Homo sapiens: one gene and its partners. The protein of the gene in region 1 purifies or fractionates together with the protein of each later gene. This does not show direct contact. Each region holds a gene or a part of one and is shown in the gene's direction. Other genes may lie near its edges.

Evidence for each region.
Region 2: the proteins of ZNF547 (region 1) and ZYG11A purify together in Homo sapiens (affinity purification with mass spectrometry; one large-scale study listed by BioGRID and IntAct). This does not show direct contact.
Region 3: the proteins of ZNF547 (region 1) and PTPN5 purify together in Homo sapiens (affinity purification with mass spectrometry; one large-scale study listed by BioGRID and IntAct). This does not show direct contact.
Region 4: the proteins of ZNF547 (region 1) and ARPC4-TTLL3 purify together in Homo sapiens (affinity purification with mass spectrometry, with the first as the bait; one large-scale study listed by BioGRID). This does not show direct contact.

What each region holds. Positions count from the first base shown.
Region 1 is NC_000019.10:57,366,222-57,370,112, forward strand, and holds part of ZNF547 (zinc finger protein 547), read left to right. Parts: intron 1-2,322; 5' UTR 2,323-2,334; coding exon 2,335-2,358; intron 2,359-3,891. UniProt on the Homo sapiens protein: May be involved in transcriptional regulation.
Region 2 is NC_000001.11:52,852,667-52,856,557, forward strand, and holds part of ZYG11A (protein zyg-11 homolog A), read left to right. Parts: intron 1-1,798; coding exon 1,799-1,964; intron 1,965-3,891. UniProt on the Homo sapiens protein: Probably acts as a target recruitment subunit in an E3 ubiquitin ligase complex ZYGA-CUL2-elongin BC.
Region 3 is NC_000011.10:18,781,705-18,785,595, reverse strand, and holds part of PTPN5 (tyrosine-protein phosphatase non-receptor type 5), read left to right. Parts: intron 1-3,891. UniProt on the Homo sapiens protein: May regulate the activity of several effector molecules involved in synaptic plasticity and neuronal cell survival, including MAPKs, Src family kinases and NMDA receptors.
Region 4 is NC_000003.12:9,830,203-9,833,747, forward strand, and holds part of ARPC4-TTLL3 (ARPC4-TTLL3 fusion protein), read left to right. Parts: intron 1-2,901; coding exon of another isoform or gene 2,902-3,334; intron 3,335-3,545. Other genes in the region: tubulin monoglycylase TTLL3, read left to right, coding at 2,902-3,043.

The sequences.
Region 1 (3,891 bases):
TTGTTTTTTTGTTTTTGAGATGGAGTCTTGCTCCTGTCATGCAGGCTGGAGTGCAGTGGCACGATCTTGGCTCACTGCAGCCTCTGCCTCCCGGGTTCAAGCAGTTCTCCTTCCGCCTCCAGAGTAGCTGGGATTACAGGCATACGCCTGGCTAATTTTTGTATTTTTAGTAGAGACAGGGTTTCGCCATTTTGGCCAGGCTGGTCTTGAACTCCTGACCTCAGGTTATCTGCCTGCCTCGGCCTCCCGGAGTGCTGGGATTACAGGTGTGAGCCACTGCGCCTGGCTGGGAATAAGCTTTCGACTTGCCCAATTCAGATAAATTGTTTTTTTTTTTTTTTTTTTTGACGTGGAGTTTTGCTCTGTCGTCCAGGCTGGAGTGCAGTGGCGCTTGGCTCACTGCAACCTCTGCCTCCTGACTTCAAGCGATTCTCCTGCCTCAGCCTCCCAAAGTGCTGGGATTACAGGTGTGAGCCACCATACCCGGCCCAGATAGGTTGATCTTATAACAATCCAGAAACAAATGTCATAGTCAAGATTTGGTAGATAGATTTAAAACTAAAATATTCTGCCATTGGAAGTGAAATGTCATAGCACATACGTGGACGTTATGCATTTAGAGATGTTATAAAAATGTATTGGCAGTATACATAGCACTACTCAAGAAGCCAAAGAAACACTTGTGCAGTGCTAAGTGTCACATGTCTGCTTCTGCCAGAGGCTAGGAATAGTGATCTTGCTATAATGTGAGAACCTGAATCATGTTTGTAAAATAGGAGGCTGGGAGCAGTTCCAGGCCACAGTGAAGTGTGTTGCTTCTGTCACTTTATATTCTTATATTTCCTTTCCCTCAGACAATCAACTGTTGATGCCTGTACTTGTGAAAAGTTGTAAGGCAATTTTTAGGGTTGTTGTCAAAGAAAAGCTTGGATTACATTAACATTTGTACTCAGCCTTTTAGGCAATACACCAGAGGGGGCTGGGAATTGTCTGTTTGTTCCTATGATAAGTAGATCTTACTGTAAAATAGTAAATGTCCATTGAAAAGCAAGTAACACAACCTGTGCTAACTGGGAGCACTTGAACAATTTTGTTCCATTCTGAATAACTTTTCAGCAAGTAATTCTAAGCTTTGTCTTATATCCTTGTGTAAAATTGCTACCTTCATTTTTACCCTATTTGATTTCTTAAATGGTTTGTTCAAGAAAAAAAAAAAAAAAAAAAAGAATAGAGGGTGTAGATTGGACCGGGTCCTGAGGATCCAATTTGGTAGGGAAGTCTAAAGGTCATTGCCTGCAAGCTATGTGGTGAGGGAGGAGAGAGCTGATACTTGGGGTTCACACCATAGGTGGAGCCATAAGCCAGATGCTTACTTTAGAAAGGCGCAGACCTGCCATAGGAAGGATTTTGTCCTCTGCCTAGAAAAAGGGAGGCGTGGGTGGGATAAGGAATGGGCTTGGGATGGAGACTAAGGTTTGAGATGGTTTATATTCTGCACCTACAGGCTTGGCTGACCCTCAGGGCCACTCTTTGTGGGAAAAGAAAAAAGTTATCCAGGCTAGTGGAGCAGCTGGGTTCTAAACTAGGGCACTGCTTTTTCCCCTTCTCCACATATCAAGGCAAGATTGGATGATCTACTGCCCCAGTCAAGGTCTGCCAGCAAGCTCCCCTCAGAGCCTTATGTAACAGGCAGGCCTGGTTGCAGAGGACCAGTAGCTGACCTACCTGCTCAGCCCTTCCCTACAACTCATTAAGAATATATGAAACACTTATTGGTATAAGCACTAACCAGTGTCCTTCTAAATGTGTACACATAGGCAGTTAGAAGTGAAGCTATTCATTGAGTTAAATTCCTGCAAACACTACATAATTGATTTGACCCAAATTTGCCTATAATTATCAACATACCATGGAAAATTTTAGTATCCTCTAAAATTTTAAAAGCTAAAAATATACACCTCAGTTTTTGAAATTCTACTACATCATTTATACTGAAAACATATAGTAAACCATTAATCCAAGAACAGTAATAGCTGATATATATGATGAGCAACGAGTGTTTGACACCGGTAAGAGTCCTATGAGGTGGGAGCCATTCTTACAACCTATTTACAGATGAGAGCACTGAAGCTCCAGCAGGTTCAGTTCTTTTCTAGAGTCACAGTGCTGCTAAGAGCCAACAGTGAAGTCGGAGGAGCTGAGTTTATACAATCAACTTGAGATCAGTTTGCTTTAGGGTAAGGAAGAAGAGATGGTGGTCCAACTCTGCCTGTAAGATCTTCCCATCGTTGCCCATTTCTCACGGTTTCCCTCTTCCTTCAGGGTCCCCTGGCGATGGCAGAAATGAACCCTGCACAGGTGAGTGGAGTGTTTTCTACCTTTCACCTACCAGTTATCTCATAGATGGTTTTGGCACCTCCATGTAAAGAAAAGTGGTGTCCAGAGACTCTCTTTCTGTCTTTCTCCCTCTCTTATGTCTGAAAAGTGAGTGATTCCACCAGTTCTAGTATCTTAAATTAGGTCTGGGATTTTTGTTTGATTGTTTTAAGTTTACTGTGACACCTTACCTGGATGGCCCTGGATTATGTGGAGTGGCTCCCATTTTTGACAGTTGACGTGGTAACATCTGTCAGAGTGTCATGGGCACAAGATTAAGAATGTTTCAGTGTTTAGAGGAGAGACTGAACTGGATTTTTAGGGAACTGCAAGTGTCTGTTATATCGGATAGGAATAGGGAGCAGAGTGGGAGGTGGCTAGAGACACACAAACATCAGGCCTGGAATGACAGCCTAGGTCCTGGGTCTCTAATCTAAGGGAGGTGGTAGATGGGGAAGATTTGAAGCAGAAGAGGGCAGTGATAGGACCCTAGCTTAAGGAACTTTCTTTGGCGTCTGAGTGGAGGACAGACTGTGGAGGTGAGGGTAATGGCAGGGAGATCTGAGAGGATGTTCCTGCAGCAGTCTAGGTGGATGTTGGTGGTGACTTGTCAAGAGTAGCGGTGGCTTCAGGATGTGTTTTGAACTGGAGCTGCCCACATTTTATGATGTAGAGAGTGAGGCAGCTGGGGGGGTGGGATAGAAGGGGAATCAGGAGTGGCCCCATGGTTTTTGTTTGGAAGCATAGATGCTCCATCAGCTAAGATGGGAGAAGTCAGCAGTATTAGGAATTTTCAGAGTGAGTGTGAGGAGTCAGTGTTTGTTCAAGCCACAGATGTCTCAGAGACTCCTGGTGGAGGAGTTCAGGTTGGAGACGTCCACACTATGGTGGCTGTCGTATGGACCAGGATGAAGCCATGGATTCAGTTTAGGTGACAGCATCTCTAGGTTATGGTGGCAGTGCTGTTCGAAGACAGAGAATTGGAATGGGGCATGAGAACTGGGTCTCTTACTGGGTAGCTGTGCAGTGGTGGAGGAGTCACTAGACAAATGAGGGAATGGAGTGTTTGTGGGGATGAGTGTATGTGAGATGGTGGGGTATAGGAGTGAGAAAGACTTCTGAAGGAGAGTGGACATGATGGGGTTGCTGAGGAGGGTAATAGGGTGAGGTCGGAGAGTTGCTAAGCATCAGTTGGAATGAGATGAGGATGGGAATTCTATTAGTCTGTTTTCATATTGCTACAAAGAACTACCTGAGACTGGGTACTTTATGAAGAAAAGAAGTTTAATTGACTCACAGTTCTTTTTTTTTTTTTTTTTTTTTTTTGAGATGTGGCCCAGGCTGGAGTGCAGTGGCACAATCTCGGCTCACTGCAATCTCTCCCTGCCAGGTTCAAGCGATTCTTCTGCCTCAGCCTCCTGAATAGCTGGGACGACAGACTCACCCCACTACGCCCAGCTAATTTTTGTATTTTTAGTAGAGATGGGCTTTCACCATGTTGGCCAGGATGGTCTT
Region 2 (3,891 bases), on another chromosome or scaffold:
ATTTTGTAGAGGAGAAAGGCATTTTTTGCCTTATGATAGGGTTATATACCAATAAAACCCTTGTAAATTTAAAATATTCTAAGTTCAAAATGCATTTAAGACACCTAAACTATCAAATATAGGTTAGTCTGGCCTACCTTAAATGTGCTCAGAACTCTTATATTAGCCTACAGTCGAGGAAAATCATCTAACACAAAGCCCATTTCATTATAGTGTTGAATATCTCGTGGAATTTATTGATACTGACAGTGAAAAACAGTGGTCATATGTGTACTCACTGTAAACATACACAGTTGAAAGCACTCTGGGCCTGAAGAATGTTTGAAGCATTGAACTAAAAGTTAATTGCTGGATTATGGAGAAGCTACATCAACAGGGTCACCAGTTGCTCTTCTAAGCATTGGAGCCCATTGACACTTGTTGATGGTTTAGCAGGCATAGTGTTCAAGAAGATATCAAGTATTGGTTGTTTACCCTTGTGATCGTGTGGCTGACTGGGAGCTGCAGCTCACTCTGCTGACCAGCATTGAAAGAGTATCATATTATGTCACTAGCCTGGGAAGAGATCAAAACTCAAAATTTGAAGTATGGTTTCTACTTTATACCGTTGTAATTCCAAAAATCATGAGTCAGGGACTATCTGTACATGCCTTTATAGCCTCACCTTACTGTCAGTTTCTTACACTTTCATAGGACCTTGACTGTATCACTGTTTGAGGTTGTGAACAGTTTTGAGAATAGACACATGATAATCAATGAATACATATTTTTTGAGTGAATGACCATGTAATCTCTGCTTGGAGTGTCCCAAATGTTGCATTGAAATTGTCAGATTTCTTGTTTGTATTCTTCACTAAACTTTAGCTTTAAAGGGACTAGAACCATGTCTTACCCACCTCTGTATTTTCAGTGGCTAGCACAGAACAGGTGATAAGTAAAGGGTTAAGAGAACTTAATATTGGGGCCGGGTGTGGTGGCTCATGCCTGTAATCCAGCACTTGGGGAAGCTGAAGTGGGAGGATCTCTTGATACCATGAGTTTCGAGACTGGCTTGGACAACAAAGTGGGACTCTATAATAAACCTACAAAAAATTAGCTGGGCATGGTGGCATGGGCTTGTAGTCCCAGTTACTCAGGAGGCTGAGTGGAAGGATCACCTGACTGGGGAAGTCAAAGTTGCATTCGGCTGTGATTGTGCCACTGCACTCCAGCCTAGGCGATAGTGAGACCCTGTTTCAAAAAAAAGAAAAAAAGAACTTAATGTTTTTCAAGATACAGTATGTTCTCTCTGACTACGGGTTCAGTATATGTGAATTCAGCCAACTTTGGATGGAAAATATTTGGGGAAAAATACCTGCATCTGTATTGAACATGTACAGACTTTTTTCTTGTCATTATGTAAACAATACAGTATAAAGGATTTATACTGTATTAGTGTTTATAAGTAATTTAGAAATGATTTGTAGTATATGAGAATGTCTGCATAGGTTATATGCAAACCTTACACCATTTTATATAAGGAGACTTGAGCATCTGTGGATACTGGTCAGAGAGTTCTGGAACCAATCTCCTACAGATTTTGAGGGACAGCTGTACAACAGAAAGGACAACAGATTAAATTTTCCATTCAGTTAACAGTAGGAATGAGGTGGTTTCGTTACATATAAATCATTACTAGAGTATGAAGGATGTATCTTCAGATACTCTCATCAAGTGGAATAGGTATGGCATGACCAGTTTTATGTTGAATTGTTGCAGATGTATTCTAACAAAGTTTGTTTGGGGTTTTGTTTGCTAGGAAGAGGCATCTCCCTACACTTTGGTCAACATCTGCCTGAATGTCCTGATTGCTAACCTGGAGAAATTGTGTTCTGAAAGACCTGATGGAACACTGTGCCTTCCGGAGCATTGGAGTTTCCCTCAGGAAGTAGCCGAGCGATTTCTCAGGGTGATGACTTGGCAAGGTAGTGATAAGGCTTCTCTAAAGTCAGCTCTTGCAGTACTTTACTATTTGAAAAGCACTTTTACACACAATTTCTATTGTGATTCTCACAAAGTATTTCCATTTCATTTGTCTGGAAGTTGAGACTCACTCTTTCTGGGATTCCATGATGGAAATTGTCTTCTAGGCTAGCCCTGCTATTGACTTGGTTTTCCACTCTTCACTTACGTAAAGTTATCACTCATCCATCTGCTCTCTAGCTTTGTTTTTTTTTTTGAGACGGATTTTCACCCTTGTCGCCAAGGCTGGAGTGTAGTGGCACAATCTTTGCTCACTGCAGCCTCCGCCTGGGTTTAAGCGATTCTCCTGCCTCAGCCTCCTGAGTAGCTGGGATTACAGGCGCCCACCACACCTGGCTGATTTTTGTATTTTTAGTAGAGATGGGGTTTCACCACTTTGGTCAGGCTGGTCTTGAACTCCTGAGTTCAGATGATCCGTCTGCCTTGGCTTCCCAAAGTGCTGGGATTACAGACATGAGCCACTGTGCCCGGCCTGCTCTCTAGCTTTTTCAAAATGCTCTTGCTGTAGTCTTGTTTACCATTCTTTTCATTATGGTTATGAGTCTTACCTCCCATTGTAGCTGGGCTTAAAGAACTCCACTAAAAAAATAAAGGAAAAAAAGGGCATTTTATTATTTATTTATTTATAACCTGGGATTACAGATGTGAGTCACCATGTCCGGTCATAATTTTTGTATTTTTAGTAGAGATGGGGTTTCACCATGTTGGCCAGGCTGGTCTCAAACTCTTGACCTCAAGTGGTCTGCCTGCCTCGGCCTCCCAAAGTGCTGGGATTACAGGCGTGAGGCACCGTGCCTGGCCCATAATCAATTTTAGAACCTCAAACTTTCCATCACCTCAGAAAGAAACCTTGTGCCCGTTAGATTTTATTTCCCTTTTCCCGCATCCCTCCAGCCCTAAGCAACCACAAGTCTACTTTCCATCTCTATGTATGGATTTGCCTATTCTGAACATTTAATATAAATTAAATCATCCAATATGTGGCCTTGTGTGCCGAACTTTTTTCATTTAGCATGTTTAAGGCTCACATTGTGCAACATGTATATCTGTACTCGTTCCTTTTTATAGTCGCATATTCTACTGTATGGACATACCACATTGTATTTATCTGTTTTTCGGTTGATGGACATTTGTGGTGTTCTCACTTTTGGGCTATTATGAATAATATGCTACCATAAAGATATGTGTACAAATTTTATTTTTAAACTTAAAAAATTTATTCTAAACTTTCTCTGCTCCATATGAATCTGCAGGAATGTGTAAGAGTTTCTATGTGGACATAAGTTTTCATTTCTCTGAGTGAAATTGCTGGATCAAATGGTAACTCATTATCTTTTTGAGGAACTGCCAGACTATTGTTTGTGGCTGTACTATTTTACATTCCCATCAGCAGTGTCCAAGGGTTCTAATTTCTCCACGTTCTCACCAAGACTCATCTGACATTTTGATTATAGCCATCCTAGTGGATGTGAAATAGTATCTGTTGTGCTTTTAATTTGCATTTCTTTAATGACTTATGGTGTTGGTATTTACCTGGTATGCCTCCCTATACTGAATTCCTTGTGGTCACAGGTGTCTGATTACCTTACGTGCCTGTTACATAACATGGAATCTCACCATAGAAGATGTGTAGTAGGCCAGGTGCAGTGCCTGTAGTCCCAGCTACTTGGGAGGCTGAGGCAAGGGAATCGCTTGAACTTGGGAAGCGGAGGTTGCAGTGAGCCCCCACTGCACTCCAGCCTGGGTGACAGAGCAAGACTCCATCTCAAAAAAAAAAAAAAAAAAAAAAATATGTGTAGTAAATGAAAAATAGGACAACCCATTCGTTTTACAGATGAGGAAAATGAGGCCCAGAGAGGTAAGTGACTT
Region 3 (3,891 bases), on another chromosome or scaffold:
TATTTCATCATCTGCCTAAAGATGTTGTCTGGTATAAATTATAAATTACAGTTGTGAAAATAACCATACTCCATGCTAGAGAACAAACGTAAGATGAACCATCATTTTATATGCCCTATTCTATGTTTTCTGTAAATCTGTATTTTGTAATAGTTGAAATTAGTCCACATATAGGTTTATAGCCTGCATTTTTCACTTAACATTTTGTCATGACTTCTCTGTTTATACTTGGTTGGCTGACCCCTGCTTTATTTAACTATGTCTTTATTGTTGCACATAGTCAATAATGAGCATCTCCAGGCACATAGCTTTTCCATCTCAGAGTCTCAAAGCATCCATCTGAAGCACCCTCAAGAGATATGATGGGATCAAGGTGGTTAAAGAGGGGTGCAAGGAAAAGAACATGTCGTGGCCCTGGCGTCTGGAGTAGAAAAAGAACAGGGAGCTTGGTGCAGTGGCTCATGCCTGTAATCCCAGCACTTTGGGAGGCTGAGGCAGGGGATCATTTGGGGTCAGGAGTTTGAGACCAGCCTGGCCAACACGGTGAAACTCTGTCCCTAGTAAAAATATAAAAATTAGCCAGGCATGGTGGCGCACACCTGCAGCCCCTCCTACTCAGGAGGCTGAGGCATGAGAATTGCTTGAACCCAGGAGGCAGAGGTTGCAGTGAGCCAAGATAGCGCCGCTGCACTCCAGCCTGGGTGACAGAGTGAGACCCTGTCTCAAAAAGAAAAAAAGAAAAAGAACAGGGAACCCAAGAGTTGGAACCAAGGAGAGGATGGAGAGGAAGATAGATCATGGGCCAGGGGGTCAAGGTCACAGAGCCCTAGGGGTGGCAGAGGGACATGCAGCTCTGTCAGATTTCAGAGGGAAGTCTGTCCTTCCAGTGTTTTGTTTGTTTGGTGTGGGAGGCTTTTATTAAATTGTGGTAAAATACACATAACACGAAATTTACCATTTTAACCAATGTTAACTGTATAATTTTGTGGCGTTAAGTATATTTACAGTGTTATACAACCATCACCACTGTCCATCTCCAGAATCTTTTTATCTTCCCAGACTGAATCGCTGTACTCATTAAATACTAATTCCTCATTCCCATCTCCCCCAGCCTCTGGTGACCTCCGTTCTACTTTCTGTCTCCATAAATTCACCTATTCTAGGTGCCTCGTGTAAGTGGCATCATGTTTGTCTTTTTTTGTCTGGCTTCTTTCACTTAGCCTAATGTTTTCAAGGGTCGTCTCTGTGGTATCATATATCAGAATCTCATTTATTTTCAAAGCTGAATATATTCCATTGTATGGATATACCACATTGTTTGGCCATTCATCTGTTTCCACCTTTTGGCTATTGTGAATAATACGGCTATGAACATTGGTGTGCCAGGATCTGTTTGAGCCCCCGCTTTCAATTCTTTGGGGTATATACCTCGCAGTGGAATTGCTGGATCGTATGATCATTCTGTGTTTCACTTTTTGAGAGGTGCAGGGTGCATTTTTTAAAAAGGATTTTTGTGTGCCCAGTATGAAGACCACTGAGTGAAGTCTTAGGAATAGAGAGTCCAGGAAGAAGCTGTTAATTTAAAAACTAAATGTTGTTTGGGTTCTGCATGGCCATGGAGGTAACAGAGAAGAGAGAAGAGGGAACAGAATACAAATGAGTCTGACTCCGTTTCTGAAGAATTGTTGTGATTTAGAGGCATTGTGGGTGGAAAAAGAAAGCTCTCAGGAGAGATCTTAGTGGGTGGAATTGATTCAAGCATGCAAGTATTTACTGTACCAGGCACTGTGGTGGACACAAGGCCCTCAGCAATCAACACGACCACAAGGACCCTGCCCGCAAGGAGCTTAATGTCTAGTGGAGGTGCCAGAGGAGTCACCTGGCAACAGTGGTCTGTACTGATGCATTCTAGGCTCATCATAAGCACTCACTCTTACTGAGTGCTTACTACATTATCTCAATCTTGGTGACAGTTCAGTGAAGACGGTTTCTGTTATCCTCAATTTGCAGGTGAGGAAACAGAGAGCTTGAGTAACTCTATTTCAGGTACGCACAGCAAGAGTCAGAGCCAGAATTTAAACCTAGGCAGTAACTGTGCTCTGTAGGGCTGTGGGAACACAGGAGAGACACCTGCCCAGGACGGAGGTCAGAGAAGGCTTTCCGAAGGCAGGGGTCAGGTGAGTATTTTCACGCAAGTCAGCTGTGTTCTTCTTTAGCCCATGATGTAAAACAGTGCTTTCCTATAGTAGCAGCAGTAGCGTTCAGCCCTGCTTCCAGGGACTCTAGACACTCAGGGAGACCCCTTCACTGAGACTCCACTTCAGAGGAAGATGATCACTTCTATCATCCTTGCTGCTTATCATGAGGCAGGGAGGCTGGGGGTGAGGCATTGCCATTTCCCACTGCCATCTGCTGCCTCTGCTACTTCCCTAGCTGGTCAGCATCTGAGGTACCTCAGAGGGACCTCCTGGGGCCCCTTCGGGGCAGCATCAGGCCAGTGGGCTAAGAGTTAGGCAAATACGAGGCCTAGGAGTGGCAGTGAAAATCATATATCCACCTTCTGTGCCACATCACTGTCCCAAGATACTCCCACCACCACAGAGCCCTGTCTTACCAAAGTACAGATGTGGCCAAGTCTCTGGTGTTTCCATCCTTCTGTGGCTCCCCATAGCTTGCAGCCGTATTTCTCAACAGGGACCTACTGGCCTTTGGGTGGGAGAGTTCTTTGATGTAAAAGCATCCCTGGCCCCATCTCCTATATATTTGCCTGGAGCACCCTTCAGTCATTATAACAACCAAAAATGCTCACACATGTTCTTCAGGTTTACTTTACAAGCAGTCCAATGTATAGATCTTAAGTGTTCTGTTCAGTGCATTTTGACAACTGCATGAGCTCATATAACCATCACCAAGAGCAAGACTCAGAAGATTTCCATCACCCGCAAAAGTTCAGAGATAACGATTATTCCAATTTCTATCATTGTAGATGGATTTTGTCTGTTCCTAATCGTCATATAAGTGGAATCATATAGTACATGCTCTTTTGTGTCATGAAATAGTTTTTAAGAAGCCAGACGCAGTGGCTCATACCTGTAACCCCAGCACTTTGGAAGGCCAAGACGGGTGGATCATCTGAGGTCAGGAGTTCGAGACCAGCCTAGCCAACATGGTGAAATCCCATCTCTACTAAAAATACAAAAATTAGCTGGGCATGGTGGTACACACCTGTAGTCCCAGCTACTCGGGAGGCTGAGGCAGGAGAATCCCTGGAACCTGGGAGGTGGAGGTTGCAGTGAGCCAAGATCATGCCACTGCACTCAAGCCTGGGTGACAGAACGAGACTCCATCTCCAAAAAAAAAAAAAGACATAGTTTTTGAGATCCATCCACGTTGTCACGTTTTCCCCACTAACCCCCAATACACACACAGATTTCTAAATGCCAACTAGCATGGCAATACCTGCCTCTGTCCCCCTGAGAAAAAATGGCCTGTGAGTCAAAGTTAGTGTGTCTTAGGCTGATTCATGAAGCCGTCTGCTGTGTGACAAGAGTCCCTCTTACGTCTACTCTGTGGCTACACTGAGCTGCCTCGTCTGCCTGGCATACCTTGTGCTTTCACCTCTCCGGGCCTTTGCCCTGCAGTGTTCCCTGCCTGGAATGTCCTCCCTGTATCTGGTGAACTCCTGCTTGTCCTTCGGGTCTCTTCTGTGCAGCTTCCCAGACTCTGTTTTTGTGCCCTCCTGAGTGCTCCCATAAGACAGCCTCAGTGGGCCTTTAATGCATTTCTCACTCAACTCACTAGGCCGAATGCTGGGTGGAGGGCAGGGACTGGCTCTTAGTTATCTGTGTGTCCCCCAAGGCTCAGTACAGAGCCTGATATTAAAGAAATTGA
Region 4 (3,545 bases), on another chromosome or scaffold:
TTATTATTACCTAATAAGGTTAGGAGTTTCATCATGTATAACCTGTAAAGTGCCTGAATGTATAGTAATAGGCAATTACTGGTAGCTACTATTATTAGTAGTATTATAATTATTTCACTCGTCTTGCTCCAAAAAGAGATTGGAGTCTACTTGTAAAATAGAACAGCATTTTAAAAAATCAGTCAGAAAATTGATTGCAAGGCTTTCTGAGTTCTGGATAGAATTTCTTGTGGCAGTTTAAGTGGCTTCTGATTAGCCTCCGGTTTCTGTCAAGGTTTGGTTACAGGAAGAGAACGTACTGATCACATGACCTAAGTGACCTCGCCTTTGTTACAGTTGTTATTGATCATTTCTTAAATTAATATATTGGCGTTTTGGTTTCAAAAAATGTAAACGGGGAAATACATGGGCAGGAAAATATGAGCAAGCTGAGGGAAAAGGTGCCATTGTAGTGCAGTGCTCCCAATGCCAGTGCCCAGGCCAGAAGCATCTGAAAGCTTCTAAAGGTATGGATGTGAGGAGGCTCCACCCCCAGAGATTGACCCAAAATGTCTAGCTTGGGGAGGAGACTATGTATATCTGCATTTTTCAAATGCCCCCCAAATATCTTTTTTTTTTGAGACGGGGTCTTGCTCTGTTGCCTAGGCTGGAGTGCAGTGGCACCATCTCGGCTCACTGCAAGCTGCGCCTCCCGGGTTCAAGCGCTTTTCCTGCCTCCGCCCCCTGAGTAGCTGGGACTACAGGTGCCTGCCACCATGCCCGGCTAATTTTTTGTATTTTAGTAGAGATGGGGTTTCACCATGTTAGCCAGGATGGTCTCGATCTCCTGACCTCGTGATTTGCCCGCCTCGGCCTCCCAAAATGCTAGGATTACTGGCATGAGCCACCGCGCCAAGCCCTCTAAATGTCTTTTATTGCTGATTTGTTCTTGTTTTTGTTTTTAGGCCAGCACATAGTAAAGGCTTATACCTTGCACTGTTTTTTTTTGTCTCTTTTCATCTAGGCCAGCCCCAGTGCCTTTTGACCCCATAGTTTTGATCTTTTGAGGGGCCAGGCGGGTTGTTTTGTAGAACTGTCCCACATTCTGGATTTATCTGATTGTTTCCTTATGGTGTGATTTACCTTGGTCTTCTGTTAGCTGATTGTCTCAGGAACTAGAAGTTAGGTCAAATAGTTTGATGAGGTTAAACATTTTTCCCAAGAGCACTTCAGAGGTGATGCCGCGTACCTCATGTGGCATCACAAGGCACATCCTGTGAGAGTGTCTCACAGTTAGTGCTGCTGAGTTTGACTGTGGGTTACAGTGGTGGCTACCAGATTCTCTCCATTATAAGCTACATCTCCCCTTTGCAATTAATTTTTCTGTAAGGTGCTGTGTTGGCTCTGTCCAGATTACACATTTTCCTGTCATCCTTTCATCTAATTGTTTTGATACCAGTTTTGATTATTGCCTATTTTATTAGAGTTGCAAAATGGCAAATGTCTAATTCTGTTGTTCCTTCTGCATTTATTAGCTGAGATTCTTCTGTAAAGATGAACTTTCCCTCATCATCTGGGGCTACTTGGGAGTGCTGATAGCTACATTTTTATTTGATTTTTTTTTTTTTTTTTTTTTAGACAGAGTCTCACTCTGCCACCCAGGCTGGAGTGCAGTGGTGCTAGCTCGGCTCACTGCAACCTCCGCCTCCCGGATTCAAGTGATTCTCCTCAGATCCCGAGTAGCTGGGATTACAGGCGCCCACCATGGCCGGCTAATTTTTGTGTTTTTAGTAGAGATGGGGTTTCGCCATGTTGGCCAGGCTGGTCTCCAATTCCTGACCTCAGCTGATCCGCCTGTCTTGGCCTCCCAGAGAGCCACCGCGCCCGGCAATAGCTGCATTTTTTTTTTTTTTTTTTTTTTGAGACGGAGTTTCGCTCTTTTCACCCAGGCTGGAGTACAATGGTGCGATCTCGGCTCACTGCAACTTCTGTCTCCTGGGTTCAAGCAATTCTCCTGCCTCGACCTCCCGAGTAGCTGGGATTACAGGTGCCTGCCACCATGACCTGCTAATTTTTTTGTATTTTTAGTAGAGACAGGGTTTGGTTATGTTGGCCAGGCTGATCTCGAACTCTTGACCTCAAGTGATCTGCCAACCTTAGCCTCCCAAAGCTCTGGGATTACAGGTGTGACCACCATGCCCGGCCAATAGCTGTATTTTTAACAAGCTCCAAGTAATTCTGATGTTTAGATAGATTCTGATCAGGATCCTTCAGTGGCACAGAAGATACCTCCAACTGGCTCCAGGTTGCTAGCAAGGCACAGGGAGCTCTCCTGGAGCCCAGCTGAGGGCAGGACATACAGCTTGGCCTGATAGGAACTGAGAGTTGTAAGGGAGTCCCTCTCCTGGACCCTTCTCTCTGCCTTCCTCTGCATATTCGTTACTTCATTCTCTCCACAGACTGTCTTCTTTAAGGTTCTTAGTTTCTGCTACCCCATAACCTGGATTCACACGAGGCTCTAGGCAGGCTCCAAACCTCTTACTTGTCTGGGTGGCGTAACTCAAATTCTCTGTGCAGAGAATCTGATTGGCTCAGCTCAGGAAGCTGTCCACCAGCAGTGGCCTGTGCAGTGGAGCCACACGCATTCCAGCAGGGGCTGGGGGCAGCTTAGGAGGGAAATGTGGCTGAGGGGTGCTGGTGGGACATGGCTAGGATTCCCCCTTCCTCTGGGCTAGCAATTCCTGGAGCTCTGTGACTCTAGGTACTGACTCAGAGGTGGGCTTTCCATTTCTCAGCTCAGAAACGCCTCTTTGACCAGGTGCCTCAGAAAGTAATTCCACCCATCTCTACTCTGGGTCCCGCTGGGCCAAGGATTCCAGTACCACTGACTGAGTGGGCCTTGTCTCCTCTTCTTGCCCACAGCCTGCTGTGGAGGTGCCTCAATATGTGGGCATCCGGCTCCTGGTAGAGGGCTTCACCATCAAGAAGCCCATGGCGATGTGTCATCGGCGGATGGGGGTCCGCCCAGCAGTCCCTCTGCTGACCCAGCGAGGCTCTGGGGAAGGCAAGGACTCGGGGACCCCTACCCACAGGTCAGCTTCTAGGAAAGGCACTGGGGCCAGGAGCCTGGGGCACAGTGAGAAGCCAGTCTCCACTGCCACCACTTCAGCCCCCGGAAAGGGGAAGAAAGGCAAGGCGAAAAGGGCCACAGCCCTGGTCTGCCCCAATCTCTGGGAGTGGGATGCCCCCAGCACCAGGATGGGCTGCATTTTCACCATGACCTTTTCTAGTGGGGACAGGCAACCCCACCACTTGAACAGATTGCCACTGAGTCCGAAGAACCCCCGGGCCCTGGGTAAGACCATTCCCCCAAAACACCCGAGTGTTCCAAGGCGATTTATTCCTGCTCTCCAGGCCCCTCCCAACCACCTGGATCAGCCACCCCACCAAAGAGCCACCAGTAGCAAGTAAAAGCCACTACTCACAAAGTATTGTTTAAAAATACACAGCCAAATTAGCTGGGCACGGTGGTGTGAGCCTGTGGTCCAGGCTACTCGCGAGGCTAA